2 separate regions of the Homo sapiens genome follow, and region 2 is linked to region 1. A link means that fine-mapping ties the variant in region 1 to the plasma level of a protein whose gene starts in the linked region. Region 1 holds a variant in brackets. A gene starts in the other region. All regions are shown on their reverse strands.

Region 1 (15,520 bases):
AAAGTATTTGCTGAGCCCCTCTAAGTGCCCAGCATAGCCTTGTTCATTCACCTCCGTGTCTTCCCACATTCTTTTTTTCCCAGACAAGGGGATCTGTTTGTGTAATGTGATTCACTGGGCCAGCTTTGTTGGTCTGGAGCAGAGAAGGGCATGGCACAGAAGTCCTGAGGTCACTGTCCTGTCAGCCCAGGTCCCCTCATGTGGATACAATCCCACAGGCAGCCAGAAGCAAAGAACCCCAGCACTGTTCCCACACCCCAGTATGAGTGTGCTTTGTGCCCTAGCACCTGACTGATACATTCTTCCCATCTCAGATCCTCCCAACGTGAGGCGAGCACATGCACACATTCCTCGTTTCCATTCTAGTTTAAGGCACTTGGCTCTGATAATGGTCCCAGGAGGCCCTGTGCACCTCCTGGCAGCCTGTCCCACCACACTCTTCCACTCATTATCTAAGGGGACCCAAGTCTTAATTGGATCTGGCGCTCCCCAAATTAGGGCATTTCCTCCCAATGATTTGGGGCTAGGAAAAGCTGAAAGGAACCACACTCGGCCCAGAGGTGGCACTGTTTACATGCCTTGTTCACAGAAATCTAGAATTGGAGAGCAAGCAAGAAAGGTGGTCAGGAGTGGCTAGGAGAGATTTGCAGAGGGGATCTAACCATACTCCCCGTTGTTACACTTCTGGACACAAGTTGGGCCGAAGTAAGCCAAGCCCAGTCCTTCCTGTTTCCTTTCTCAGGAAATGTGACCACGTGCACTGGGAAGCTTTGTGTAAAGTAGATAGGGGTATGAGCCAATTGCCCAGCATTGGTGTTTTGTTTTTTGTTTGTTTGTTTGTTTTCACAGAGTCTTGCCCTGTCACCCAGGCTGGAATGCAATGGCGTGATCTCAGCTTACTGCAACCTCTGCCTCCCAGGTTCACACAATTCACCTGCCTCAGCCGCCTGAGTAGCTGTGATTACAGGCACCCGCCACCACGCCCAGCTAATTTTTGTATTTTTAGTAGAGACAGGGTTTCACCATGTTGGCCAGGCTGGTCTCGAACTCCTGACCTTGTGATCCGCCCACCTTGGCCTCCCAAAGTTCTGGGATTACAGGCGTGAGCCACTGCGCCCAGCTTATTGGTGTTGTTTGTTTGTTTTTTAAAAAAAGGCCAGGCACGGCTCATACCTGCAATCCCAGCACTTTGGGAGGCCGAGGCGGGTGGATCACCTGACCAACATGGAGAAACCCCATCTCTACTAAAAATACAAAATTAGCCAGGCATGGTGGTGCATGCCTGTAATCCCAGCTACTCGGGAGGCTGAGGCAGGAGAATCACTTGAACCCGGGAGGCAGGGGTTGGGGTGAGCTGAGATCGCATCATTGCACTCCAGCCTGGGCAACAAGAGTGAAACGCCATCTCAAAAAAAAAAAAAAAAGAAAGCGTGAAGCCAACCTCCTTGTTATATATAGCACATTTTCCAAGGAACTTTGTTTTCTTTTAAAGATGGGAAAGGCAGGTGACCTAGAAAGGTTGGTGTTAGTGATGTGCTGAATGCCATATTCTTTTGGAAGTAGACTTCAAATGCAAGTGATCTTGATGCAGAGGCAAGAATTAATCTTCACCCTGAAACTTCAGGTGTATTTTGAAAGTCAGTGTTCTTGAGGCCGGGCGCAATCACTCACACCTGTAATCTAGCACTTTGGGAGGCCAAGGCAGGTGGCTCACCTGAGGTCAGGAGTTCAAGACCAGCCTGGCCAACATGGTGAAACCCTGTCTCTACTAAAAATACAAAATTAGCTGGGTGTGGAGGCACACACTAGTCCCAGCTACTCGGGAGGCTGAGGCAGGAGAATTGCTTGAACCCGGGAGGCGGAGGTTGCAGTGAGCTGAGAGCGCGCCTTTGCACTCCAGCCTGGGTGACAAGAGCGAAACTCTGTCTCAAAAAAAAAAAAACAAAGTCAGTGTTGTTTCAACAGTGTGGCGAAAGAGAGTCTTAGGAGTGTTCATCAACAAAAGATTCATCCAATTTTAGGGTGAATAGGAAAGTTGAGAGCTCTCACTCTCCAGATTTTCAATTTGTGCTTTTGGGAATGTCAATCTGAGGCTTGCTTTTCTGGGGTCCATCCTCCACTCATTCTCAGAAATGGAAAACAGGTCCTACCCTGCTTGACTACGAAAACCGCAACCCTGCAGTTGGCCAAGGGAGTGGTCAAGCTTTGGGGATTTGCAAAGGCGGTCTAGTCATGTCCACATTGTGACACTTCTGGCCATGGGTGAGTCAGGTTAAACTGACCTTGCCCCTTCACTATTTCCCTTCTCGTGATTGTGGCAGAAGGCTTGGTGGGGACTGTCCTGGCAGTTCATTCCTGCCAGTGGCCATCTTTAGAGCTAGTCCTACTTACAGCATGATCAGTCCCAAGAAGGGTGTTTTTTCTGTACTGTTTGCAACATGTAACAAAATTGCTTATGAAGTTCAGGTAGCCTGTTTTCAGTCCTCAGAGTCCTTTCCCCATTTTTTCTTTCTTGGTTGCTTATGTTTCCTCAAAGGGTAATTTTAAAAATTAAAATCGTATATATTTCACTACAAAAGTGATAAAGATTCCCAGAACATTTGGAAAAAACAAAAGTAAAAGTAGGGGCTAAAATCCTTCCACCAAATTCTGTTATTACTAGTGCATTTCATTCTTTTTTTTCTTAATATACGTAGGGCTATTTTTTTTTTAATTAAGGAAAAAATGTAAGGCCAGGCACAATGGCTCACACCTGTAATCCCAACACTTTGGGAGGCTGAGGCGAGAGTATCGTTTATGCCCAGGAGTTTGAGACTGGCCTGGGCAATATAGTGAGTCCTTGTCTCTACAAAAAATTAGCCAAGCGTGATGGAGTACACCTGTAGTCCCAGGTCCTCCGGAGGCTGAGGTGGGAGAAGAGCTTGAGCCTGGGAAGCAGAGGTTGCAGTGAGCCGATATCATGTCACTATACTCCAGCCTGGGCAACAGAGTAAGACCCTATTTCAAAAAAAGGAAAAATGGGGCCAGGTACGGTGGCTCATGCCTGTAATCCCAGCACTTTCGGAGGCCAAAGCAGGTGGATCATCTGAGGTCAGGAGTTTGAGACCAGCCTGGCCAACATGGTGAAACCCCGTCTCTACTAAAAATACAAAAAAATTAGCTGGGCATGGTGGTGCGTGCCTGTAATCCCAGCTACTTGGGAGCCTGAGGCAAGAGAATTGCTTGAATTTGAGAGGCAGAGATCGCAGTGAGCCGAGATCACGGCACTGCACTCCAGCCTGGGCAACAGAGCAGGACTACATCTCAAAAAAAAAAATGTTTTAAAATGCAAGTTTACACTTTATATATATATATGTGTGTGTGTGTTTTGAGACAAGATCTTGCTCTGTCATCCAGGCTGGAGTGCAGTGGCACAGTTACAGCTCACTGCAGCCTCAAATTCCCTGGACACAAACAATCCTCCTGCTTCAGCCTCCTAAAGTGTTAGGATTACAGGCATGAGCCACCATGCCTGGACAATTTGTGTTCTAAATTTGCACTTGACTAAAGTTCTTACCGTATACTAATGTAAATGCTTCATAAAGATCATTTCCTTTTCTTTTCTTTTTTGAGACGGAGTATCACTCTTGTTGCCCAGGCTGGAGTGCAATGGCGCGATCTTGGCTCACTGCAATCTCTGCCTCCCAGGTTCAAGTGATTCTCCTGCCTCAGCCTCCCGAGTAGCTGGGATTATAGGTATGCACCACGACGCCCAGCTAATTTTTGTATTTTTAGTAGAGATGGGGTTTCTCCATGTTGGTCAGTCTGGTCTTGAACTCCCAACCTCAGGTGATCCGCCCACCTCGGCCTCCCCAAGTGCTAGGATTATAGGCATGAGCCACTGCACCCGGCTATAAACATCATTTTCAGTAGCTCAGCTTTAAACATCTGCCCAGCGGACATAGTTCAGTTTACAAAGCATCTTTGAGTCCATAAGTATGTTGTTCTTTGCTGTATGCAGGAATTTAATGCCATCACTAGATGCCAGACCGTGTGCAAAGGAGTATTTAGAAAATGCCGTGATGACTACTCTATGTTCTATTTTCGATATACATTATTGTGAATAGATAGATGACTGTACTCCAGAAAATAACCCTGATTTGGGACAATGTAAGCTGGTTTGCCATTTCCTGAAATTATGCTTGACGTAGCTACTGCCATTAGAAACACCAAGCTGTTAGAGGCCAGCTGAGTTATCCAAGGCCAGGGATGCAGTGGCACATTTCCTCCTCCCATTCCAAATCTCAATGATTCGTCATGGAAATGCCTGGATTTGGGTTTTGAGGCCGTGGTCAATCATCAGTAAATACTGACTAAGAACGTAGGTAGATGGTGTAGTGGCTTGCTGCTGCATACTCATTCCAGGGCTGAGGACTGGAGATCAGCTTTACAAGTCTAAAATTGGGATTGATGCTGGGTGCAGTGGCATGTGCCTCTAGACCCAGCTACTTGGAAGGCTGAGGTGGGAGGATCACTTGAGACCAGGAGGTTGAGGCTGCAATGCACTTTGGTCCAGCCTGTTATAGTCACTGCACTCCAGCCTGGAACTCTAAATAAATAAATAAGGATAAAATCAGGATTGATCAGGTTCAGAGAAGAAGATACAGATTCACATGAGACCTAGTCGAAATTATAATATATTAATTTATAATGAGAACTATAACTGCCCAAGATACTCAAGGTGACTGCTCAGCACATGCTCCCTTGCATAGGAAGCTGAAACCAGTGTGTTTTCTGTACTGGGGGCATAAAACAGGGCAAATGGAATCATGCAAGTGATATGTGAATAATATTGTCATTGGGGTGGGACAGTTTTGTCTCTGGGGATATATCTGCCTACAGGGGCCCATTCTCCTAGCAGCCTGTTGGGGCCCTGCCCCTCTATTTTGGTTGGCTGCAGAATGGAACAGATCCTTCCTCTCTGGTATCTTGTAGGGCCTTTGCAGCCATTTACCTGCTGTTCAGAAGCTGTTCTGAGATTTTTTTTTTTTTTTTTGAGGCAGAGTTTCGCTCTTGTTGCCCAGGCTGGAGGGCAGTGGCACGATCTTGGCTCGCTGCAACCTCCGCCTCCCAGGTTCAAGCGATTCTCCTGTCTCAGCCTCCCAAGTAGCTGGGATTTACAGATGCCTACCACCACTCCCGGCTAATTTTTTGTATTTTTAGTAGAGACGGGGTTTCAGCATGTTGGCCAGGCTGGTCTCGAACTCCTGACCTCAGGTGATCCACCCACGCCTCAGCCTCCCAAAGCGCTGGGATTAGAGGCGTGAGCCACCAGGCCCAGCCTGTTCTGAGATTTAGTAAGGCTTCCTTCACAGGCAGGCATGCCTGGATTGAATTTCCAAGGCCAGTTCTGGCTTTCACCAGAGAGACATCCTGTTCCTTCTGGGGCCTTGTTCAGATAACTAATCCTGTCCCTCGTGTAGACTTGAAGGGTTTAACTTCCAGAGGGCAGCCTGATTTCCAAATTCCAGGGATGTCACCCATCACCCATTACAGAGCTGATGATTTTAAGTCAGAATTTCAAAGAGGATGTGAGGCACTGATGACAGGCAGATGGATTTGCAACTGGTGCCAGGAATAACCTGTATAGCCCTCATGGTCCTCCACCAGTGAAGGTTCTGCAAGCTCTTGGAAGTCTTGGTTTTTTGTTTGTTTGCTTTTTTGAGACAGAGTCTCAATCTGTCACCCAGGCTGGAGTGCAGAGGCATGATCTCAGCTCACTACAACCTCTGGGTTCAAGCAATTCTCCTACCTCAGCCTCCCAAGTAGCCGGAATTACAGGTGCATGCTGCCACGCCTGACTAATTTCTGTACTTTTAGTAGAGATGGGGTTTCACCATGTTGGCCAAGCTGGTCTTGAACTCCTGACCTTAAGTGATCCGCCCGCCTCGGCCTCCCAAAGTACTGGGATTACAGGTGTGAGCCACCATGACCGGCCAGAAGTCTTGTTTTTAACCAGAACAGTTGCTATGCCATAGCTCTTGGACTTGAGGCCACTGAGCCTGAATTACATACACAGTAGATAACCTGAGACCAACCCTCAGTTGTAAATATGCTCATAAAAATGACAAGGCACAGTGTTGCCCTGAGCAGATTTTATGTGTATCGATTGGATCATTGTGTGATAATACTTATCTAAAAACGCCTTCATTCATCATTCCAGCAGCTAGTTCAACTCCTCGAAGAAGATGGGGTGCTCCAAAGCAAACACTCATAATTATCAACTAGCAAAGCTGACATCTAGTATTCTGAGAAAATTCCTCCCTGCTCACATGAGGACTATCACGTGGGTCCTGTAGGGGTTCCTCAGGATTTCACAAAGGGGTCTAGCGTCTGTTACATGCACAGTCACACCTGCCAGATTTGAATCTCCTGCACAGGTACGGTGGCAGTTACAATTGGAGCTTGTACGGAGCTCTCCAGCTTACCAAACACATTCACACCCACCATCTCTTTTGATCCTTGCAACAGTTGCCCTGTTTGCATTGTGATTATGGTTATCTTTATCATGATTCCCACTTCGCAGCTGAGAACTGAAAGGCAGAAAGGATGCATGGTTTGGGCAGAGTTATGCAGGTAGCAGAAGGTAGCACCCAGGTCTCTGGAGTTAAAGCCTATGCTGCTGCAGCCTGCTGAAATTAGCCCCCGGGGAGGGCACAGTGTTGCAAAGAGGCTTGGCTGTGAATTTCCAAATGCCATGTGAAGTTGGACACCAGCGTCTGTTCTCCCTCCCATTCATTACCCTGCAGGCTCTTTGCTCCCAAAGCTCTGCTACTCTGGGATAAAGACCAATTACAAAACAGGTCTGTTTATACTCAGTGAGAGGTGGGTGAGCTTGAACAGCGTGAACTTGACATGAAGGGAAGGGCTGGGCTGGGCTGGGCATTCCTTCGTGTCTCTTCCAAGGAGGGGGATGCAGCTGGCCTGCAAGTCTCTTTCCGCGATCTTCTTGCACATTTCTTTTTTTTTTTTTTTGAGACAGAGTCTCACTCTGTCACCCATGCCGGAGTGCAGTGGCGCGATCTTGGCTCACTGCAAGCTCCACCTCCTGGGTGCACGCTGTTCTCCTGCCTCAGCCTCCCGAGTAGCTGGGACTACAGGCACCTACCACCACGCCCGGCTAATTTTTTGTATTTTTAGTAGAGAGGGGGTTTCACCGTGTTAGCCAGGATGGCCTCGATCTACTGACCTCGTGATCCGCCCGCCTCGGCCTCCCAAAGTGCTGGGATTACAGGCATGAGCCACCGCGCCCGGCCTCTTCTTGCACATTTCTTATTCTCTCTCTCTCCCTTACACACACACACACACACACACACACACACTCTCTCTCTCTCTCTCTCTCTCTCTCTCTCTCATTGGGCATTTATTCTGAGCAAAGGACTTCCAAAAAGACATTTGGTGAGGGGTGAGAGATAGAGTAGTAAGCAATGCAGGCAGGATCCTTGCCTTCACTAAGTTTATGAGGAGCCAGAACAAATAAATAAAAAATTTAATAAAACACATGATTAGGATAGTGTTGGCCGGGCGCGGTGGCTCACGCCTGTAATCCCAGCACTTTGGGAGGCCGAGGCGGGCGGATCACGAGGTCAGGAGATCGAGACCATCCTGGCTAACACGGTGAAACCCCGTCTCTACTAAAAATACAAAAAATTAGCCGGGCGAGGTGGCGGGCGCCTGTAGTCCCAGCTACTCGGGAGGCTGAGGCAGGAGAATGGCGTGAACCCCAGGGGGCGGAGCCTGCAGTGAGCCGAGATTGCGCCACTGCACTCCAGCCTGGGCGACAGCGAGACTCCGTCTCAAAAAAAAAAAAAAAAAAAAAAAAAAAAAAAAAAAAGGATAGTGCTATGAAGGTTCGGCATGGATATCATGCTGGGTCCTGGTTTGGGCAAGTGAAGGGAGCCATAGCAGGAGGGCCTCTTGGAGTGGCATTTAGCTAAGACCTGGAGGATGAGTAGGCTTTAGGGTGGCAAACAACCAAGGCTCCTACATTTCCAGAAACCCGGGACCAAGGGCAGCAGTCACTTGCAGCTTGGAAGGTGGGCTGGGGCTGGACTCATGTGGAAGCTTTGTTTGCATACCAGGCTTACTGTTTCTACTTAGACTGTGTTTATGTGTGTGTGCAGTTGGGGTTGGGAGCATTGCTGTTAAAAGTGCCTCACTTTGGCTGGGAATGGTGACTCACGCCTGTAATCCCAGCACTTTGGGAGGCCAAGGCAGGCAGATCACCTGAGGTCAGGAGTTCAAGACAAGCCTGGCCAACATAGTGAAAACCCATCTCTACTAAAAATACAAAAATTAGCTGGGTGTGGTGGCGGGCACATGTAATGTGCTACTTGGGAGGCTGAGGCAGGAGAATTGGTTGAACCTGGGAGGCAGAGGTTGCAGTGAGCCGAGATTGTGCCATGACACTCCAGCCTGGGCGACAAGAGCGAAACTCCATCTCAAAAAAACAAAACAAAACAAAAAGTGCCTCACTTTGGGGCTGTGCTGCTACAGGCCAAGAAGGGGAAAAAGAATGTTCAGTAGCAGAGACCCTGGAGCGAAGAGTTTGGCTTCTTCAAAGAACTGACAGAAGGCCAAGGTTACCCAACCAGGGGTGCAAGGAGGAGAATGCTGGCAGACAGGGCTGAGAGGCTGGTGGCGGAGGTGGTTCTCACTGGGACTGGAATTATCCTCACTCAAATTAGAGGGGAGGGAGCACACAGGACACTGACCTGATCCAATTTTTTTTTTTTTTT[TA/A]AGATCACTGGCTGTTGTATGTATGGATGATGGATTAGAACAGGGCAAGAGGAAATGAAGTAACCTGCTGAGAAGCTGCTGTTATGATCCAGACAAGAGGGGCTGGTGCATTAGGATGGGGTGGGGGCAGTGCTGGACAGGGAGATAAGAAGTGGCTGTTGGCTGGGCGGGTGGCTCGCACCTGTAATCCCAACATTTTAGGAGGCCGAGGCAGGCCGATATCTTGAGGCTGGGAGTTGGAGACCAGCTTGGGAAATATGGCAAAACCCCTTATTTACAAAACATACAAAAATTAGCTGGGCATGACAGCACCCACCTGTATTCCCAGCCACTGGGGTGGCTGAGGTGGGAGGATCACCTGAGCCCAGGGAGGTTGAGGCTGCAGTGAGCTGTGATCCTGCCACTGCACTCCAGCTGCTTAGGCAACAGAGTGAGACACTGTCTCAAAAAAATTAAATATTAAAAAAAAGCCGGGTGCGGTGGCTCACGCCTGTAATCCCAGCAGTTTTGGAGCCCGAGGCAGGCAGATCACGAGGTCAAGAGATCGAGACCATCCTGGCCAACATGGTGAAACCCGTCTCTACTAAAAATACAGAAATTAGGCAGGTGTGTTGGTGGGCGCCTGTGATCCCAGCTACTTGGGAGGCTGAGGCAGGAGAATCGCTTGAACCTGGAGGCGGAGGTTGCAGTGAGCCGAGATCGTGCCACTGCACTCCAGCCTGGCAACAGAGTGAGACTCTGTCCCAAAAAAAATAAATAAATAAATAAGTGGGCCGGGCATGGTGCTCACACCTGTAATCCCAGCACTTTGGGGAGGCCGAGGCAGGCGGATCACGAGGTCAGGAGATCGAGACCATCCTGGCCAACATAGTGAAATCCTATCTCTACTAAAAATACAAAAATTAGCCAGGCATGGTGGCGCATGACTATAATCCCAGCTACTTGGAAGGCGGAGGCAGGAGAATCCCTTGAACCAGGGAGTTGGAGGTTGCAGTGAGCCAAGATCATGCCACAGCACTCTAGCCTGGCGACACAATGAGACTCTGTCTCAAATAAATAAATAAATAATAAATAAATAAATAAAATTTACAAATGGCTGTAAGTGGTATGTAAACTGAAACCTGAATTCAGTGCTGTTGGTGCAGGGATCCTCATCTTCTGCAGAGGGAAGACTACCCCTTATTTACTGGAACACCAAGGCTGGACACCATTCATTCAATCATCAACACATTTTTATTGTTGCCTCCTATGTGTCAGGCGCTGTCCTAGGCACCAAACAAAACAAGCAAATCCCAAGCTTTCATGGTGGGATCAAACAAAATCAATACCTTAATTGTAGGATATTAGATGGTGATGTGTGTTAAAGAGACATAGCAGTAAAGGGGCTGGGGGTGCTGGATGAGAGAGAGGGAAGGTTTCAATTTTTTTTTTCTTTGAGACAGAGTCTTGCTATTGCCCAAGCTGGAGTGCAGTGGCGCGATCTCAGCTCACTGCAACCTCTGCCTCCCAGGTTCAAGTGATTCTCCTGCCTCAGCCTCCCCAGTAGCTGGGGTTACAGATGCCCACCACTACACCCAGCTATTTTGTATTTTAGTAGAGATGGGGTTTCACTATGTTGGTCAGGCTGGTCTCAAACTCCACACCTCAAGTGATCCACCTGCCTTGACCTCCCAAAGTGCTGGGATTACAGGCGTGAGCCACCACTTCTGGCCAGGAAGCTTTCAACTTTAAATTGGGTGACCTGAGAAAGTGACTAAGACTTGAAAGAGGTGAGGAATAGAGCCTTTAGATAGCTCCTTGGATGGAGGAAGCAGCAAGTGCAAAGGCCCTGAGGCAGGCCTGTGCTTGGCGTGTTCAAGGAAAAGCAGCTGGAGCTGAGTGAGTGGGAGGGGTGTGGTAGGACATGGGCTTAGGATGAGGGCAGGGGCCAGATGCTGGGGTCTAAGGACTTTGCCTTTTCCTCCCAGTAGAAAAAGAATCCTCTTAGGCCAGGCACGGTGGCTCACGTCTGTAATCCCAGCACTTTGGGAGGCCAAAGCAGGTGGATCACCTGAGGTTAGGAGTTCGAGACCAGCCTGACCAACGTGGTGAAACCCTGTCTCTATTAAAATTACAAAAATCAGCTGAGTGTGGTGGCGAGCGCCTGTAATCCCAGCTACTCGGGAAGCTGAGGCAGGAGAATCGTTTGAACCCGGGAGGCAGAGGTTGCAGTGAGCTGAGATCATGCCACTGCACTCCAGCCTGGGCAACAGAGTGAGACTCCATCTCAAAAAAAAAAAAAAGAAAGAAAAAGAAGCCTCTGACCGGCTAGGTGCAGTGGCTCATGCCTATAATCCCAGCACTTTGGGAGGTTGAGGTGGGTGGATCACGAGGTCAGAAGTTCAAGACCAGCCTGGCCAAGATGGTGAAACCCTGTCTCTACTAAAATACAAAAATTAGCAGGGCCTGGTGGCGGGCGCCTGTATTCCCAGCTACTCGGGAGGCTGAGGCAGGAGAACTGCTTGAACTCAGAAGGCAGAGGTTGCAGTGAGCCGAGATCGCAGCACTGCACTCCAGCCTAGGCGACAAAGCAAGACTCCTTCTCAAAAAGAAAAAGAAGCCTCTGGAAGGTTGTGAACATGGGGTCACATTATCTGACTTGGGTTTTTCTAAAGTCACTGGGTTGCTGTGTGGAAAATAGTCTGCAGAGGGGCAAAGGCAGAAGCAGGGAGACCAGTTAGAAGATTAGTAGTGCAATCATCCAAGGGAGAGATGAGGGGGGCTTGAGCCAGGAGGCTCGCAGTGGGGTGCTGGCAGGTGGTTGGATTCTGGATATATCTTGAAGGTAGTGACCGTGGGATTTGCTGAAAGATTGGCTGTGGAGTGTAAGAGGAAAGGGAGGAATCAAGGATGACTCCAAGCCCGAGCTACTAGATTCATGGACTGGTCATTAACTGAGATGGGGAAGACTGCAGATGGAGCATTTAGGGGCAAGGAAGTCAGGGGTTCAGTTGCAGACACGCTGAGGTGGAGATGGCTGTTAGGCATCCCAGTGGAGATGGAGCCGCCAGAGTGGCTGGGGAGAGCTCCAGGCAGGGCGAGTACATGAGGGAGGCGTGTGTGTGTGTCAAGCAAATATATTGGGAGATTGACAAGTGGATGAGTGTAGACAGAGAAGAGAACACAAGGCCTAAGCTTGGGATTCTCCACCATTAAGAGCAGACAGAGGAGGACTAATTGGTGAGGTAGAAAAGACAAACCAGGCCGGGTGCAGTAGCTCACACCGGTAATCCCAGCACTTTGGGAGGCCGAGGAAGGTGGATCACTTGAGGTCAGGAGTTTGAGACCAGCCTGGCCAACATGGTGAAACCCCATCTCTACTAAAAATACAAAAATTATCTGGCGTGGTGGCAGGTGCCTGTAGACCCAGCTACTCAGGAGGCTGAGGCAGGAGAATCGCTTGAACCCAGAAGGCAAAGGTTGCAGTGAGCCAAGATCACGCTACTGCACTCCAGCTGGGCCACAGAGTGAAACTCTGTCTCAAAAAAAAAAATTGCTGAAAAGTATCCCATTGTCTGCAGATACACACTTGTTTGTTTGTTTGTTGAGACGGAGACTCATGGGATTACAGGCGTGAGCCACCACACCTGGTCTTAATTTTTTTTTTTTTCTGAGACAGAATCTAGCTCTGTCACCCAGGCTGGGGTGCAATGTCACAATCTCGGCTCACTGCAACCTCCACCTCCTCAAGCTATCCTCCTGCCTCAGCTTCCTGAGTAGCTGGGATTACAGGCACATGCCACCACATGCGGCAATTTTTTTTTTTTTTTAGTGGAGATGGGGTTTCGCCATGTTGGCCAGGCTGGTCTCGAACTCCTGATCTCAGGAGATCCACTCACCTCAGCCTCCCAAAATGCTGGGATTACAGGCATGAGCCACTGCACCTAGCCCCACATTTTCTTTCTTTTCCTTTCTTTACTTTACTTTTTTTTTTTTTTTTTGAGACAGAGTCTCACTGTCACCAGGCTGGAGTGCAGTGGTGTGATCTCGGCTCACCACAACCTCCGACTCCCTGGTTCAAGCGATTCTCCTGCCTCAGCCTCCTGAGTAGCTGGGATTACAGGCACACGCCACAACGCCCAGCTAATTTTTGTATTTTTAGTAGAGACGGGGTTACACCATGTTGGCCAGGATGGTCTCGATCTCCTCACCTCATGATCCACTTGCCTCAGCCTCCCAAAGTGCTGGGATTACAGGTGTGAGCCATCGCGCCCAGCCCCAGCCCCACATTTTTAAATCCATTTGCTAGTTGGACCTCTGGATTGTTTCCCAGTTTTGAACTATATCTAATGCTGCTATGAACATTCTCGTGTAAGTCTTTGTGTGGATGTATATTTTCATTTCCCTTGAGCAGAGTCCTAAGAGTGGAATTACTGGGTCATATAGTAAGTTTATGCTTATTTAATCTTTTAATAAATTGCCAAACTGTTTTCCAAAGTATCTGCACCATTTTACATTCTCATCAGAAACGTAGGAGGGGTTCCATTTCTCCACATTGTTGCCAACAGTTGGTATTGTCCTTTTTAATAGCCTTCTAGTGGGTGTACACTGGAATCTCATTATAATCTAATTTGCATTTCCCCAAGGACTAATGATATTGAGCATCTTCTTGTGTACTTGTTAGTACATAGGTAAGAATGAACTTAGCGTCCTCCAGTCTGCATTTCCAAATGGGCAGGCAGGTGGGTAGGGTTTATATTTTCCCAGATGAGGTCATGTGATCCCTCTGTGGATGAGATCAGCGCTGGCTCTGAGGAGATCCTTGGTGTCTACCTGCAGGAATCTGAAATGGTAAAGAGAAGGCATCAGGTGTACTTGCGGCTGGGTGCAGTGACTCATGCCTGTAATCCCAGCACTTTGGGAGGCCGAGGCCGGTGGATCACTTGAGGTCAGGAGTTGGAGGCCAGCCTGGCCAACATGGTGAAATCCTGTCTCTACTAAAAATACAAAAATTATCTGGGAGTTGTGGTGCCTGCCTGTAATCACATCTACTTGGGAGGCTGAGGCAGGAGAATCGCTTGAGCCCGGGAGGCAGGGTTGCAATGAGCTGAGATCATGCCACTTCACTCTAGCCTGGGTGACAGAGCATGACTCCATCTCCAAAAAAAAAAAAAAAGTGTACTTGCATGTTGGGGTCTGCAGATGGGTGGAGTCATCTGCCCTTTCTTTTCCCCAAGAAACCAAACTACCCAGGGAGGGACACCCAGAATTGCCTCAATGAAGCAAGCCACCCTGTGTAGGAGACACTCACTGGGATTCTGTGAAATAGGGGGCCTGTGAGAGCTGGAAAACAATGTGGCAGCTGTCTGGAATGGAGGCCAATAGTAACTCAACTGGGCTGTGGCAGAAGAAGGAAGGCATTGGGCTGTGTCTGATCAGAGCCTGCGATTTTTCCATCAGTCCTAAACTGGCGTTTGCCTTCTCTGTTCACATCTTTGGGATCTGCCTCCTCTGTCAGTCCCCTAAGCCTGGCACTTCTGTGGGTAGAGCTCCTCTTCAAATGCAAATCAGGTCTCTTTGCCCACCCGCACTCATGAACTTTTTCATGGTACTTAAATGTGCTGCGCTCTCTCCACCTCTCTTTTCCCTGATAACCTTTATCCCTGTGCATTAGGGTTATGCTAGATGCTGTAACAGACCTCAGAATTTCAGCATTTAACACAATAGAGTTGTTTTCAAATTCTCAAAATGTGTGTGAGCCGGGTGCAGTGGCTCACACCTTTAATCCCAGGGCTTTCGGTGGCTGAGGAAGGAGAATTGCACTTTGGGAGGCTGAGAAGGGAGTATGGCTGGAGCCTAGGAGTTGGAGACCAGCCTGGTCAACACAGTGAGACTTCATTTCTACAAAAAATAAAAAATATTAGCCAGGCACGGTGGCACACATTTGTAGTCCTAGCTACTTGGGAGGCTGAGGTGGAAGGATTGCTTGAGCCCAGGAGGTTGAGGCCACTGTGAGTCGTGATTACACCACTGCACTTCAGCCTGGGCAGCAGAGTGAGATCCTGTCTCTAAAATAAATAAATAGGCTGGGTGTGGTGCTTCATGCCTGTAATCTTAGCACTTTGGGGAGCTGAGATGGGTGGATTGCTTGAGCCTGGAAGTTCAAGACCAGCCTGGACAACATGGCAAAACCCCATCTCTATAGAAAATCTACAAATTAGCTGGGTGTGGTGGTGTGCACCTGTAGTCCCAGCTTCTCAGGAAGCTGAGGTGGGAGGATCACTTGAGCTCGGGAAGCGGAGGTTGCAGTGAGCCAAGATCATGCCACTGGACGCCAGATGGGGAGAGAGTGAGATCCTGTCTTAAAAAAAAAATTGCAATAATAAAATTCTCAAAACAATCTATATAGCTATTCCAGGTTGTGTGGTGCTAGTGGTATTGTGGAGTTGCTATCTCCCACACTAATATGAAGAAGGTTTGTTCTTTCTCTTTTTTGAGACAGGGTCTCTCACTCTGTCACCCAGGCTTGAGTACAGTGATATGATCACAGCTCAATAGATCCTCAACCTCTAGGGCTCAAGCAATTCTCCTGCCTCAGCCTCCCGAGTAGCTGGGACCACAAGCACACCCCACCATGCCTGGCTGATTGTTTTTTTGTTTTGTTTTGGTAGAGATGGGGTTTTGCCATGTTGTCCAGGCTGGTCTTGAACTCCTGGGCTCAAGGGATCCTCCCACCTTAGCCTCCCAAAGCTCTGGGATTACA
Region 2 (15,520 bases), not on the chromosome of region 1:
TTAAGTGCAGCTAAGTTTTTTTCCAGTCAGTGTTCTAATTGTTTTGTTTAGAAAATATGCTCACTGTAACTATGAAATTAATTTATTATTATTAATCATCATCATCAAATTTCATACCCTGAGTTAACACTTGTTCACTCAAATATTTTTAAGCACCTACTATGTATCAGAAATTTTTCTAGGCCCTTGGGATATATCAGTAAACTGGCTAAAGTAAAGAGATACCTGCATGCAGAAGCTTATATCCTAGTGGGTAGAGATAGAAAGCAAACAATAAACACTGTAAGTTTGGTAAACATATGGAATATCTAAGAGTGTTAAGTTCCATGAAATAATAGAGCACAGTACAGGATATCCATGGTGTGGGTTGATAATATTCATGCTGGGGCAGGCAGAGGGGTTAAGCATGTTCTCCTGGATCTTTACACAGGGCAGTGTCCTTATTTTATACATGTAGGAGATAAAGTTCAGGTTGGCCAAAGTTCATGCAAATATACACACATATATCATACCATGTGCTGGTAAGCATGTGGCTTACATGCCACATGTAAGGGCAATATGGCAATATGGCAGTATCTATTGCCTTTAGTAATAGCACTAATTCTATTCCCAGCTTTCTGAATCAGTCAAATAGGCTGGATTATATTGTGGCAACAAAGAACTCCAAATTCTTAGGGTCTTATAACAGAAAAAAAGTGTGTTTCTTCTTCAATCTATATGTACACATGTTCACCAAATGTCCTGTTTGTGGGATCACTATTCATAACAGCCCAGCACTTAAAATTAGGACAATGCCCATCAATATGAAGAAATTTTGGATGAATAAAATGTGGTGTATTCACACAATGGAATACTTCACAGCAATGAGAATGGATTAACTATAACCCCTTATGATATGGATGAATCTCATAAACATAATTTTGAGTGAAGAAAGCCTGAGACAGTAAATACTGTATGTGGTAGGCAGATTTCTAAGTGGTCCTCCAAGATTTCATGACCCTGGTGTACACAGACCGTCTCCCAGTTATCCAATCAAACACTAATCTAGGTACCACCATAAAGGAATTTTGCACATGTAATTAAAGTCCCAAATCAGTTACCTTAAAATAGGGAGATTATCTAGGTGGGCCTGATTTAACCACATGAGTTCCTTTAAAAGCAAAGTATATTCCTGGACTGCTTGCAGAATCAGAAGTCGGAGAGTTGAAGCTTGAGGGAGACTGATATGAGAGAAATTCTCTGTTGCTGGCTTGAAAGTGGAGGAGGGCTTGTGACAAGGAATGTAGATGACCTCTAGTTGTTGAGTGTGACCCCTGGTTGACACCCAACAAGAAAATAGAGACCTCCGTTTTTTAACTGCAAGGAAATGAACTCTGCCAACAACCAGTGAGCTTGGAAGAGGACCCCAGGCCCCAGATGAGATCACAGCCCTGGCTGATACCTTGATTTGAACCCCATAAGCCCCTAAGAAGGGAATCCACCCACACCGTGCCTGGATTTTTGACCTACAGAAACTCTGAGAATAGATCTGTGTTGTTTTAAGCTGTGGTATCTGTGGCAATTTGTTACATAGCAATATAAAATTAATACACTCTGTGATTTGATTTATATAAAGTACAAAAGCAGGCCAAACAAATCTATGCTGATATAAATCAGAAATAGTGGCCACTGGTTGGGATTTGTTGACTGGAACGGGGCACAAGAGAGGCTTTTGAGGTGATGGCAGCATTTCTTGGTATGAGGGCTGATTACATAGGTATGTTCAGTTCATGTATGTTTCATCAATTGTACACTTATGTTCACTTTTCCAAGTGTATATTATAGTTCAATAAAATATCAAAAGCATACATCCAAAACATACATTTTCCTTTTCAAAAAAAACCCACAAAAACAACATTCTTTATTTTAATATGTGTATTCATATGTGTACTTGGTTACAATAAAGGCCCTCCAACATACAAAACAAACTGAAAACAGCAGCTACCTCAGGGGAAGGGAATGGAATTGTATGGGGGTCAAGAGGAATTTTTGCACCTTCTATGATATTTGAACATTTACAAAGAGTTTCAGTCAAGCCTTACTTGGGTTATTAAAAACATGAAGGCAGAAAAGTATTAAAACGTATGTATAAGCTGGGCATGGCGGTTCACATCTGTAATCCCAGCACTTTGGGAGGCCAAGCTGGGAGGATTGCTTGAGCCCAGAAGTTCTAGAACAGCTTGGGCAACACGGTGAAACTCTGTTTCTACAAAATATACAAAAATTAGCCAGGCATAGAGGCATGCACCTGTAGTCCCAGCAACCCAGGAGGCTGAGGTGGGAGGATTGCTTGAGCCCAGGAGCTCAACACCAGCCTGGACAACATGTCAAAACCCTGCCTCTATGAAAAATACAAAACATTGGCCAGGCGTGGTGGCATGCACCTGCAGTCTCAGCTACTCGGGAGGCTGGGATGGGAGAATTGCTTGAGCCCAGGGAGGTCGAGGCTGCAGCGAGCCATGATTGTGCCACTGCACTCCAGCCTGGGCAACAGAGCGAGACCCTGTCTCAAAAAACAAAACAAAACAATGAAAAATAATAACATCTGTATAGATCCAATGATGTATTTGAACAGGGTAATTCTTGTCTAGATTGGATATAAACATTCACCTAGGGCTGTGATTTGAAAGACATTAAGAAGTTCCCAGACATCTCTCCTGCTTTGTTTAATAACAGTAACTGCCATTTGTTGGATACCCATTCTCTGTAAGGGCCTGTAAAAGGCCTTTTATGTATATTATCCTCTAGCTTTACATGCATACCTTACAAGGTTGTTGATTAGTATCATACCTATTGTACAGAGACAGAGGAGGAAACTGAGGCACTGGTAGGCTAACTGCTTGCCTAAGGCCACACAGTTAGTAAAGAGCAGAACTGAGTTTCAAATCCTGGTCTGATCCTAGAGGGTGTGCTCTTTGTATTACAGTTGCCTGCTCCTTTAATGGTCTTATTGACTCTTACCCTGGTATAAATTATTCATTCATTTCATTCTAAATGGAACTTTGGGAAAGGGAATCCTCTGAGTCCCTCACACCACGGTGGAAATGAGTGTTCCTCAGGTTACATTTTCCCTCATTGGCGTTGCAGGGCACCTCCAGGTATGGTGGGAAGTCTGGGAGAGTGGGTCTAATATAGAAAGATGCTGTGTCCCAGAAAGGGTAGACTCAGATGCTTCTCAATGTTCTCCAAGGGTGACTGGCTGCTCAGAGTTACCCAGTATCCCCCTGGGGGCTTGGCCCAGCGTAGTTTCAAGCCACAGGCTTTGTTATGTGAATTTCAGCTTGCTCTCAATATGATCCCTCCTGTAGAGAATATATTAATAACCTTAGTGCAAACACTGTAGACATGGAAAGTGAAATCCAATCCCTGCCCAGGAGATTCCAATCCTCAAGACATAAGGACCAAGCTATCCATCGAATTGCAAAAGAGTTACAATGGAGGCAGCTGACTCAAGCTTGGACTTGACTAAGAATTCACTGAATACCGGGGAGTGAGCCTGAGACCTGACCTCCAGGCCAGCTTTGCAAAGGCACTCCGGTTACTGAGATAAAAGAACAGCCTGTGGCACTGACCAAGAGCCTTTGCAGCAGACTTCTGAGAAAAGGACAGGAAGAGGGCTTGTTTAGAGTACTCTGTTTATTTAGCTTTTTGAGAGTTCTTATATTCTTTTATGTGAAGAATGGTCTGTAAATATTGCTAAGAGGAGCTCCTACCTTGTCATTTCAGACTAGTACAGGGGGTATTGGTGGAGAGGAGGGACAATTAAGCCTGAATCTTCTACCCTCAGTTTGTCTGAGTATTAGATGAACGGTAGTGTTACAAGGCAGAGCAAAAGAATAAAATACATCTTTATAGTGATTTTTTTAGAAGGGTCTCACTCTGTCACCCAGGCTGCAGTGCAGTGGCGTGATCATGGCTCACTGCAGGCTCAACCTCCCAGGCTCAGGTGATCCTCCCACTTCAGCTTCTGAATTAGCTGGGACCACAGGCGTGCCCCACCATGCCCCACTATTTATTTATTTATTTATTTATAGAAACAGGGTCTTGAACACCTGGAATCAAGCAATCTGATCCTCCTGCCTCTGCCTCTTAAAGTGCTGGGGTTACAGGTGTGAGCCTTGTGCCTTGTTGTGAATTTTTTTACATCATACTAATCTCCCTCATCATTTGATGAAATCTATATCAGCTGTTAAGTTTTTGATGAAACTAATGATGAATAAAAATAATTCTCTGTTGATATCCAGCCTAAAATGTCTCTGTTTAGAATGTCATGTTATGAGCATCTAATGTGGATGAAAAATCAAAACTAAACGTATTTCCAGATTACAGCCAACAAAGAAAATTGTCTGTCCTGCATTCTTGCAATCATCCTGGTAAATTATTGTTGTTGTTATTGTGGTTGTTAGTTTGCTATTGCAACAGCATCTTAGCATCTCAGCTGGCATAAGATTTGTCCTTGATAAGTGAGCCAAAAGCTGTTCATCTGGTAATTCATTAGCTGGCTCTCTTCCAGAAGACTCTGGAACACTAAATGTCAGTTTTTGCTTTGACTTGCTACCAACCACTGGCAAGATATAGAACAATGGAAACATTTAGGGTAAAATGCAGAGTGTCTTCTTGTTTAAACTGTGCCTATCCTGGTCCCTCTTCTCCCTGTGAAAAGCAGCTTATTGACTTGGTCTAAAAAAATCAACTATTTGCTCTGCAACTGAGTTGTGCATGTTGACACAGCCCGTACTGTGTTTGTGAGGCTACATACTGCTCTCTTGATGAAAGACTCCGCCATGTCACGCTCTTGTCACTGCAGATTGAGGGTGGAATTTGTAGCTGGGGAGGGCTAGGACACTTTGTATACAACCCTGTGAACAAGGAAGGGACTGATGCCCTGAGTACAACAAGAAAAGGTGGTCAAAACAGTTTCTGTCAGCAAAAGTTCCTCTTTCTGGGACCAAGACAAAAAAGAATGGGTGGGTGGGCAGATTGATTAGCTCCTCCAGGCCCTCCCAATGTTCAGTAGGGAGGCTTTTCTGGCCATTCCAGACATCTGTGAACCATCCGCTGAGTGTCACTGCATTAGAGCTAGTGCCACAGATTAGTCAGTCATTATCCTCAGGCTCTTGCATATTAGGTGTATTATATTTCCTTATATCGATGGTAAGTTCTCTGAGAATGTGGACTAGTCTCTGTTGAAGATATTGGGTACCTGGTAAAATGTAGTTAGTGGAAAGAAAACATTTTAAGTCATAAATTGGCAAGTAAGGGGAAAAACTAACATTTCTTGAGCACCTCTTCTGTCCCAGATCCGTTGTGAGGTGCTGTGGGCATTGTCTGACATTGGTATGTGTGCTTGGGGGAGCTAAGGGAGAGGTCAGAAGTGGCAATTCCACACGTTATGTGACCCTAGCCATGTTTCTTCAGCCCTGAGGGACTCCATTTCCTCATAAATAAAGTGAGGACACTAACAGCAGCCTTGCAGAATTATTGTAAAGATCCAATCAGTGTCTGTGAAAATATTGGGTAAACTGTGAAGCCCTAGACTAAATGTGATTGTTATTGAGCATTATGAAGAATTTTTAAAAATGAAGAAGCCAAGGTCCTAGACTTTCAGAAGGCTATTGTTTAGTAGAGTGGACAAAGTTGCTTGTGACATTTCCCAAAGATAACAGTGTCAGATCATGCGGGTGACATCCCAAGGTTGTGTGTGTATTGAGTTGTCTAGTCAGCAGTGTCTTCATCTCTGCTTCCCTCTTTACTAAAATTCAGGCTTTGGGCTCTCTATCTTCTTCACTGCTCTCAGAGCATGTGCATGACAGCATGTGTCCATGTGTGCTCACACACGCACACACACAATCCCTCTCTGTCCAGCTCTCCTGCCTGGGATGAGGATTATCTAAGTCTCTTGACATTGTATTTTGGAACAGGATGTCTCATATTCTCCAATCAAACTCAGACACCCTGGAGCTGGATGATGATCAGGGAGACATTAGAGTTATTATTGGCTCGTGACTTAGATAGATCTGGGTTCAAGTTCCACCTCTATAATTCCTAGTTGTGTGGCTGTAATATGGAACTCCAGTTTACTCATTTGTAAAGTAAGTACAACAGAAGTAACTATCTCATTGGGTTGCTGGCAATGCTAATTGAGATAGTGCATGCAAAGCGTTTAGTACAGTATCTGACATACAGCAGATGTTCAGTGTTCAGTATGTGAGCTACTATTGGCACTATTTGCTAACCATCCTGAGGTCAACCTACAGGAGACACCACTATAGCCAGCCATCCTGATCACTGTGCAGATCTTTGAAACTGGCACCCTCGACAACAGGTAGACCCCTCTCCCCATGCCTGTTGCATTTCTAACCCCTTGTTGAGCGCTACCAACCGCATTTTGTCTCTTCTCATTGGGGATTTGAATATCATCTTCTGCTTCAGCTAAATCTCCCACATGATGATAACCATTAAGGCAACTTTCTTCAGTACAGAAGATAAATATTCAAAGTGCTTATTACCAAGTTCATTTCCCTCATCTGCTCTAATGCTGTAGCTTTCTGCATTTTTATGCCATTTTGTGAAATGTGGATCTTGAAAATACGTATTAAAGAAGCAAGTCCTTTCTCAGGTTTTACTATAAAGCCCAGTTAAGGGCTTTAGGAGCCTCTGGTCTGGCTCTTTCTTATTAAAAATTAATTTTCATTTAGTCTGTGACAAGTATGGCTTCTCTAAAGTAATTTCTCTTTTCCTGGATTATGCTTATAAGGCATTTCCTTTCCAGCCCATTTGAATGACAAATAAATCCTTTTCCTGGGAGCAACTTTGGCCTTGAAGCCTGCTTCCTTCAAATTCTCCAGGTTGACCTAAGATATAATTTTCAACTCTTGTATTTTAGTATTCAGAACTAGGACTCCCACAGAGACCAGTCATGCAATGGGTGTGTTCCTCTCTTGCTGAGATCCCAGAGTATAAACATAAATGGGAAACTGTGGGTCAGGCAAGGCCATTTTTGTTTTTATCATTACCGTTATTAAAACCTACCTTAGGCTGTTGTGTTAGCTGGAGGTCACTTCTTTATTTTTATTTTGAGATGAAGTCTTGCTCTGTTGCCCAGGCTGGAGTGCAGTGGCATGTTCTCGGCTGACTGCAGCCTCTGCCTCCCAGGTCCAGGCGATTATCCTGCCTCAGTCTCCCAAGTAGCTGGGATTATAGGCACACACGACCACACCCAGCTAATTTTTGTATTTTTAGCAGAGATGTATTTTAGTAAAGTTTCACCATGTTGACCAGGCTGTTCTCGAACTCCTGACCTCAGGTGATCCATCCACCTCGGCCTCCCAAATTGCTGGAATTACAGGCATGAGCCGCTGCGCCTGGCCTTGGAGGTAAGTTCTTGACATGACTTTTTCCCAATCTTTCAGCCTTGACTTTACCATCCAAGTCAGTAGAGGCCCAGAAGCCTTATTTTCAACTTTCTGTCTTATCCCTATGATCTGAGAAACTTTGCTCCTCATTTAAGTCCTTCTTCCGCTTTTGTGACTCAGTGACTAACTGGAGGGTCATATTTGGTAGTGTATCTTTGCTGACACAACAGCCAGAAGAGAGTGGTGTCCCTCCCCAGCCTTCTCATTAGCTAGCATAGCTCAGATCACATAAGGCTCCTGCTGGGAGGGGCTTTCCCGGTCATCTAAGGCAGCCCCTCATTTTACGAAAGTTGGCAACTAAATCCCAGAGACATCAAGTGACTCACCCAGGGTCACACAGTGAGCCAGAGGCAGAACTGGGACTCAAACATTGTTTTCTTGGCATCCCACTTGGTGCTTTTTCTACTCTGCCACTGTGAACTGGTGCTGCCAGCCCAGGGCTCAGTTGATGGGGCTTGTTCAGCTAAGGCTCAAGCAGGATGAATGCAAACTTGACCTTGTTTTTTAATCCCAACTGCTGTGGTTTGACTAGTTGCTCAAATGGAAACCCCTCCGGCCAGATCAACCATTAACTTTTGAAGTGAATGGAGCTTAAAATTAGTGTCAAGAGTTTAAAGTAGGGCTCGCCCCGTAAGCTCTCCTCTTTACTTACCTATAGCTCTCTATCTCAGCTCTCCAAGCATCTCCTCCAGTGCCCTATTTTCTGTGTTTCCTAGTATCCCATGGGAAGGACCATTCATTAGGGTTAAGCAATGCCATCTCCTCTTTTCTTGTTGATATATCTTGGAAGGGGACACGTGTATTTGTCCCATCCCTCAATGTGACACAGTGGATCAGAGGCTTTCCTCCTCCATGGGACATGAGCCAGGAGAGCACTAGAGAGACATGGAGGGAGGGTGAGAAAAGACTGCAGATAAAAAAATAGGATGTGGCAAAGCCAGCCTAGGACAAAATTAGGCCCATAGCCAGTTGCCTGTCATTAAGTATATGTGTGTTGCTACTGTGAAGATATAACAAAGATATCAAATCAAAGACATTGAGTCAAAAGAGGCGGAAAAAAGCAAGCATTTTCTGAAGGTCTGCTTTTTCAAGAACTAGACTAAGTGTTCTCAGTAGATTATTTTAGTTAACTCGCATGACAGCCCACTGAGGTAGCCATCATTAACCTCATTTTCATGGATGAGAAAATTGAGGTTCTGATGAACTCACAGAGCCCTAATTAAACCCCACAGGGCAGTGTGCTCTCCAAACCTATGCTCTCTTCTCTTTAAAAGCACTCATTTGAGATTGGATTCCTCTTTACTATACCCCTAAACCAGCTTTTTGGAGGTACCTGGTCAGGCTACTTTCTTCTTCTTCTTTTTTTTTTTTTTCTCTTTTTTTGAGACAGGGTCTCACTCTGTCACCCAGGCTGGAGTGCAGTAGTATGGTCATGGCTCACTGCACCCTCAATCTCTCAGGCTCAATGGATCCTCCAACCTCAGCCTCCCGAGTAGCTTGGAACCACAGGTACATGCCACGACGCCCAGCTAATTTTTTGTATTTTTTTTTTTTTTTTTTTTTTTTGTAGACACGGGGTTTCACTATGTTGCCCAGGCTGGTCTCAAACTTCTGTGCTCCAGCGATCCACCTGCCTTGGCCTCCCAAAGTGTTGGAACTACAAGTGTGAGCCACCAAACCGAGCCCAGGATATTTTCTAAGAGTGGAAACTGAGGCCCAAAGAAGTGAGATGACTATTCCAGGAACAGTCTGGCCTGCTGCCTATGGTTGCTAGGCCTTGGCTTATTGTAGCTTTAAAAGCCCTGCATGAGCTGACTCTTCCATTCGTTGTCAGTGAAAAGTGGGAATTTTGGCTGGGCACAGTGGCCCATGCCTGTAATTCCAGCACTTTGGGAGGCCGAGGTGGGTGGATCACCTGCGGTCACAAGTTCGAGACCAGCCTGGCCAACATGGCCAAACCCCATCTCTACTAAAAATACAAAAAGTAGCCAGGCATGGTGGTGCATGTCTGTAATCCCAGCTACTTGGAGGTTGAGGCATGAGAATCGCTTGAACCCAGGAGGTGGAGGCTGCAGTGAGCTGAGAACATACCACTGCACTCCAGCCAGGGTGACAGAGTGAGACTCCATCTCAAAAAAAAAAAGGGAATTTCACTGCTAGTGAAATGGTGGGAACCCTTCATCAGTAGAGGGCCGGTCATTGGGCTGCTTGTTCACAGGGTTGGGTCTACTATGAGCCCCATTCCAGTGCTTATCCTACCTTCTCAGCACATATTCATTTAGCATATACAGCACCCTGGCACCTCCTTTTTTTTAACTCCTTGAGCCCCACGTTTTGTTAGGCTAGAAAAATAAAACTCAGTGTTCTGTGGGGGAAACTAAATGACTATTGAGAGTGATGCATATAACACACCCAGCCTGTTTATAATATTAAAGCCTGAATTGCCGGACAGTGTTTTCATTAAGTACTGCTATTCATTCCGTTTGGAGAGACACGTAAGAACAGAAACCAGTCAACTCAGTAGTTTGCATGCCTTCCATCTTTGTGACAGAATTGCCTATTATTGAGAGTATGAACGTTTTCACAAAATGAGAGACAGCTAGAAAGCCAGGGTTGAAGAGAATGCTCAGGATGAGGGGAAGGCATAATCTATGCTTTCTGGAAAGAATGTCATGCTTTCTTTAATATGAAGTTTCCACTATTTCTGTTCTAATTTGAACAGGGTACCCTGCTGTCACCCTTGTAATATGGGCCCAGAACAACTGCAGCTGCTGCTGGCCTGGTGGGATCCAGTGATGCAAATGCCACAGAATGCAGGTAGAACCAGGTCTAAGTCATTCCCCCCGGGCTAAGGCCCTGAGTCTTTGGCAGTCCTTCAGCCTTTGAGGAAGACAGTAAAGGTAAACATGTGACAAGGAATGTCAGATCAGGGAAGTGCCTCTTGAATCACAAAGTCAACCTTGCCATCTCACAGATAAGGAAGTTGAGCCCAAAAGTGAGCAAGTGGCTTCCTCAGGGTCATATATATATATATATAGTCTCATTAGTGTCAGAGTCAAGACATGAGCCCAGGTCTCTGGACTCCCAGGCCAGTGCTCTTGTAACTACCTCCCACTGTTGTCTCAGATTACAGGAACCAAATGCATGTCTGGCCTTGTGCTGCTTCGCATGCAAGCCAGGCTGACCTTTATGCTCCCAGAATCATCAGCCTTTTCATTGGAAACCATGGAAGGACGGTTCTGGGAAAATAATGAAAATCATACCACACCATAGAGACAACCAGAAGCCCTGCTCAGATGACAGAGTTCTCCTCGCCTTCCAGGTACTGAATCCCAAATATATGCATACACAGCAACTCCAGTTGGTGTTAGAATTAAGGAGATGGAAAACCGAACACTTGACAGTTCGGCCAGTTCTCTTCCCTTTTTTTTTTTTTTGCCTCCTACCCCCAGTCTTTCCCCAAAAGGCCAAAATCTAGAGCATTTGAGCCTTTGTCATTCACTGCCTGAGAGGAACTGGCTCCTGGGAGCAGAGACCAGCCGAGATTACAAGAAGCCTCTTCAACATGCAGCCAAGGCCCAGCCTTGGCCTCGGGAGAACATGGCTCTTGGGACACACGTAGGAAAAATTCCCTGCTTCTCAGCAAAAAGCCTCTTCAATCCTGGAGGGATCTTCTGAGGTTTGTGGGACTCCCTGCTCCCCACAAAGACTGTTTTCTTATACTTCCAGGAGCCCTGATATATGAATTCCTGTATGAGAGATTCATTTCTTTGTTCCTCACAGCATGAGGGGGTGGAGGAAGGGCTTCTAAATGCAAAAATCCTAGTGACATATTATATCTCAGAAACTGAACTTTACAGCCCCACCTTGTCCCTCTTGCTCTGCAACTACCAACCTCACTGGCCCTTTCTCTGAAGGTTGGACTGTGAGTGTGTGTGCAGGTGTGTGGACACCTTCCTTTTCACAACTCAAATGAGTAAAACCTGACTTTTCCCCCCGTACTGTTTACCACCTCCCCCTTCCCTCCACCCAAGGCACTTTCTTGTGTTCCAATGCCACTAATCCCTCTTACAGTAGAAACTCCGTAGTTTAGCTGCTGAGGGCTTGAATTTGTGACCCACCTGTTTCAGAAATATTTTCCTAGGGACCCAATGAATGCCATTACATACAAAGGTGGTGTAATGGCAGGGAATCTTTATGCGACACCATGAGGAGAGCCACCTATTGGGTAGGCTAAAGAGGTTGACTGCAGTGAGTGGCCAAGCAGAAGGCAGGGGCAGCTGGCAAGCAGAGCTCCGGGGCCACCCCCATAGCTTCCCACTACCCTGGCTCACACCCTAAGCTGCCCTCAGGGGGAGCAGGCCTAGGACTACCAGCCTGGGCACCAGGGGAGCTCTTGGGGAAGCTGAGAGGTCAACCTTGTAAGTTACTGCATCTGGCTTCTTCGCACAAGTTCATTGGGTTTTCAGAGTGTTCCTGGAACCTCAGGACAGGAGATGCCTGGAGTGCTAGAAATTCAGGATTCCCAAAAAATCCACTATCCCTTATGTCTGCAGCTGGACAAAGGGTCCCTCACGGTCCCCAGTAGGTTTGGGGGCACGTAGAAGTCTAGCCAGGGCTGGGAATTCTAGGGGGTGGTAAAGACAGGGTGCACAGCCACAGAATTGCCTGAGAACGGCCTGTTCCTTATTTGGCCTGTGACGCAGTTGGCACATTGAGCTTAGAGCAACAGGTAAACACAGCCTCACATTTGGAGTGGCCTAAAGGTTTCTACATTTCATCCCCACGGTGACTCAGTTGGTCAAAACAGGGGACATAATTGGTCCTATCTTACAGACAAGAAAACTGAGGCTCAGGAGGGGCAAGTGATTATCCCAGTGCTGCCCAGGGACAGATTTCCCAGGACTTCTGGACTATTCTTAGGCTTGCCGCTTCATGGCATAGATAGAACAGGAAACGGATGGAGCAGAGCTCAGCAAGGGAGATACTGGGAGAGCCTGTCTCCAGGAGGGACATGCCCCCACCCCAGGACTCAGCTCGTGGTCTGCATTCTCCCACTCAGTGGCCCCAGTGCCAACAGCACTGCTCAGAAACACTGCTGCCAACCGGTGCCCCTTCTGTAGCAGTGGGACTGGAGGGAGTTGCACACTCAGTCACGGAAACACCAGTGTCCTGATGTACAGCAAGCCCCTTTGATCAATCAGATGGGGACAGACTGACTCCTGAGTTCCCAGGGTCCTTTTCCTGAAGGAACATCCATTCTTTCCCTGTTAAACCCTGCATTCCTGGTCCAGCAGCAGAAAAGAGCCTTTCGGACACTGGAGCTTGAGGAAGATCTGTGCCTATTTATTAGAGAAGGTGGTGTTAGTATCAGGAAATAGGTGGATGGTGCTGGGTTTCTTGGGTTCAAACCCTGGGGCTCTGCTGTGTGACCTTGGGCACATCCCTACCCCTCTCTGGGCCTCAGTTTCCTCATGTGTCACATTACCTTGGATTAGACGGTCTCACTCTGATGGAGTTTTTAGTTATGTATCCATTCATTCAACAAACCTTTTATGAGTCAAGCCCTCCTGCAGGCACAGGGTTTGGTACACAGGATTCAGCAAGAAGACAGTCTGTGCTCTAAAAAAGGTCAGATTCTCATTCTGTAATGCTTTTTGGTCCTGCTGTCTTTTTATCATGCTGACTTACCTTTTCAGAAAATGCCCCCGCTTCCGCTGGAGAATGGAAATTGGCAAAGAGAGACGGAAAAGCTCCAATTTGCGCCTTTGCTATTTTAGGAGAGGTTGAAATTACGAGCCAAAGTGGAGTGATGCGCTAAGCGGAGTGACCTCCGTACTCCAAGAAAAGAGAAAACCCAGGTTCTCTGCTTGTGAAGTGGCTCGAGCTCTTAGGCGTGAGGCATTATTATATAAATTCAAGCTCGCTCGTGATCCTTAGTACCCTGAGTTGCCTGAAGGGGGGAATGGCACTGCCTGCGTGTGCAGTCCGGGAGTTCGAGCCGCCGCGGCAACCGGAGCGAGGAGCGCCCGTCCGCACCACCTGTCCCCGCCGGCATTCCAGAGTAGAGGCCGAATTGGCAGCGAGCCGGCCCGGGTCGGTCGCCGCCTCAGTTCGCGCGGGCCCTCCTAGGGGTGTGTCTCACGGATTCCACACCCGGCCGCTCCTGGACAAGCCCCGAAAGGCGTCTTCTTCCCTGGCGGGAGCCGCGTGCGCCCCGCTTTTCGCGCTGCTGTCCCGGGGCCGCCGCAGGCGGATGCACGTCCTCAGGCGACGCTGGGACCTGGGCTCCCTCTGCCGGGCCCTGCTCACTCGGGGCCTGGCCGCCCTGGGCCACTCGCTGAAGCACGTGCTCGGTGCGATCTTCTCCAAGATTTTCGGCCCCATGGCCAGGTACGTTCTAGGTGAAAGCGGGGTTCGCGCTCCCAGGCCAGGGCGCGAAGGTGCTGTACGGGGAGGGAAGGCAGCCGCGGGGGGTAGAGAAGGGCGTAAAGTTCCAGCTGGCCATTGGTGGCCCGGCTAGGGTCTCCGGAGGGGTGCGGCGCGCATTTGCCCACGCCGCGGCTCCGTCGCTACTGTTCCGCGGGCACCGGCAGCGCAGCGTCTCCGATAGCAAGTCGGGCTGCCGGCCGGCTCATTCCCCCAGGGTAACTCTGAGCCCCCGGCTCCGAGCTCCCTCGAGGCCGCCTACCGGGTGGGCAAGCGGGCGCGGGCGCCGGCAAAAGGAGGGCTTCGGGGCATGCGGGGAGAAACCCGGACAGAGGTGTGCGCTCCAAAGAGGATAGGGGCAGAAGAGCCCGGAGAGTCCGGCGGACGAAGCGGGATGGGGATGGGAGCGGGAGCCACCGAGAGTGGAGCGAGACACGCGGGGGCCCGGACTGGGGGCGTGAGTTGAGGAGTGGGGCGACTGGGCCCGGAGGGGTCCCACTGGGGCTAAACCCCGTGGAGGGGCTCCGGGGAGCTCCGGAGAGCTCTGGCGGGGGGAGGGGGCGAACGGCCCGCGGGAAGGAGTCGGGGTGGGGGTGTGTGTGTGCCGCAGAAGCCACAGCGCTGAGCCTGCCGGGAAGGAAGGAAGCGGGGAAGGGAGCCGCCGCCGCAGCCGCCGCCGCCGTGGAGTACTCGGTGCGGAGGGGAGGGGGAGAGGGGCGCAGCAGCGGCTCCAGGGGAAGGGGGCGGTGCGGGGGCACGACGAGCGCGGGCTGAGCTGCGGGATTGACGTAACGAGCTTGGGTTTCCCCCAGCGTCGGGAACATGGATGAGAAATCCAACAAGCTGCTGCTAGCTTTGGTGATGCTCTTCCTATTTGCCGTGATCGTCCTCCAATACGTGTGCCCCGGCACAGAATGCCAGCTCCTCCGCCTGCAGGCGTTCAGCTCCCCGGTGCCGGACCCGTACCGCTCGGAGGATGAGAGCTCCGCCAGGTTCGTGCCCCGCTACAATTTCACCCGCGGCGACCTCCTGCGCAAGGTAGACTTCGACATCAAGGGCGATGACCTGATCGTGTTCCTGCACATCCAGAAGACCGGGGGCACCACTTTCGGCCGCCACTTGGTGCGTAACATCCAGCTGGAGCAGCCGTGCGAGTGCCGCGTGGGTCAGAAGAAATGCACTTGCCACCGGCCGGGTAAGCGGGAAACCTGGCTCTTCTCCAGGTTCTCCACGGGCTGGAGCTGCGGGTTGCACGCCGACTGGACCGAGCTCACCAGCTGTGTGCCCTCCGTGGTGGACGGCAAGCGCGACGCCAGGCTGAGACCGTCCAGGTGAGTGCGCGCCGGTAGTCGAGCGGGACCCGGGCCTAGGCGGGCGGAGGGCTGGGAGGCGCGGCTGGCCCAAGCCGGGGACCTAGCGCGCACCCTGACGCCCGGGCGTTTGCACCCCGGCTGGGCAGGTGCTGGGCGCCCAGTAGCGCACGTTCGCCGCGCTGTGGCGGCCACAGAAAGGCTTTCCGCTCCGGCCCCGGACTGACCGTCTGTCTGTCCGCAGGGTGGCCTGCGTGATGGTTGGCAGAGCGTGCGGGGGAGGCGGCCGAGCGGCCGGAACGGGGCCGCTGGGACGGGGCATCGTAC

Which allele goes with the higher level. Alleles are on the strand shown, and positions count from the first base shown. The strength of an association depends on the size of the effect and on how common the allele is.
For the plasma level of the protein whose gene starts at base 13,393 in region 2, allele A in region 1 goes with a lower level than allele TA (weak association).

The links. PIP is the posterior inclusion probability: the model's chance that the variant is causal. The UK Biobank Pharma Proteomics Project read protein levels with antibody pairs (Olink). The fine-mapping took linkage between variants from a reference panel, not from the people measured, so its PIPs are less certain.
Region 2: HS6ST2 starts here. The variant in region 1 is fine-mapped to the plasma level of the HS6ST2 protein (UK Biobank, PIP 0.95).

Annotation. Positions count from the first base shown.
Region 1 is chr10:97,340,887-97,356,406 of GRCh38, reverse strand. It overlaps LOC105378448 (a long non-coding RNA gene), which reads right to left. Exons shown (of 2, transcript NR_188201.1): 2 at 13,204-13,600. It also overlaps a transcript of RRP12 not described here. Among named protein-coding and RNA genes, the nearest start is that of FRAT2, 14 kb to the right of the region's middle. The variant TA/A (reference allele first, on the strand shown) is at 8,778.
Region 2 is chrX:132,956,502-132,972,021 of GRCh38, reverse strand. It overlaps HS6ST2 (heparan sulfate 6-O-sulfotransferase 2), which reads left to right and starts at 13,393. Exons shown (of 5, transcript NM_001394073.1): 1 at 13,393-13,847; 2 at 14,696-15,214. The coding sequence starts at 13,420. LOC124905219 (a long non-coding RNA gene) reads right to left here and starts at 14,587. Exons shown (of 2, transcript XR_007068337.1): 1 at 13,146-14,587. RefSeq lists an enhancer at 13,514-14,014.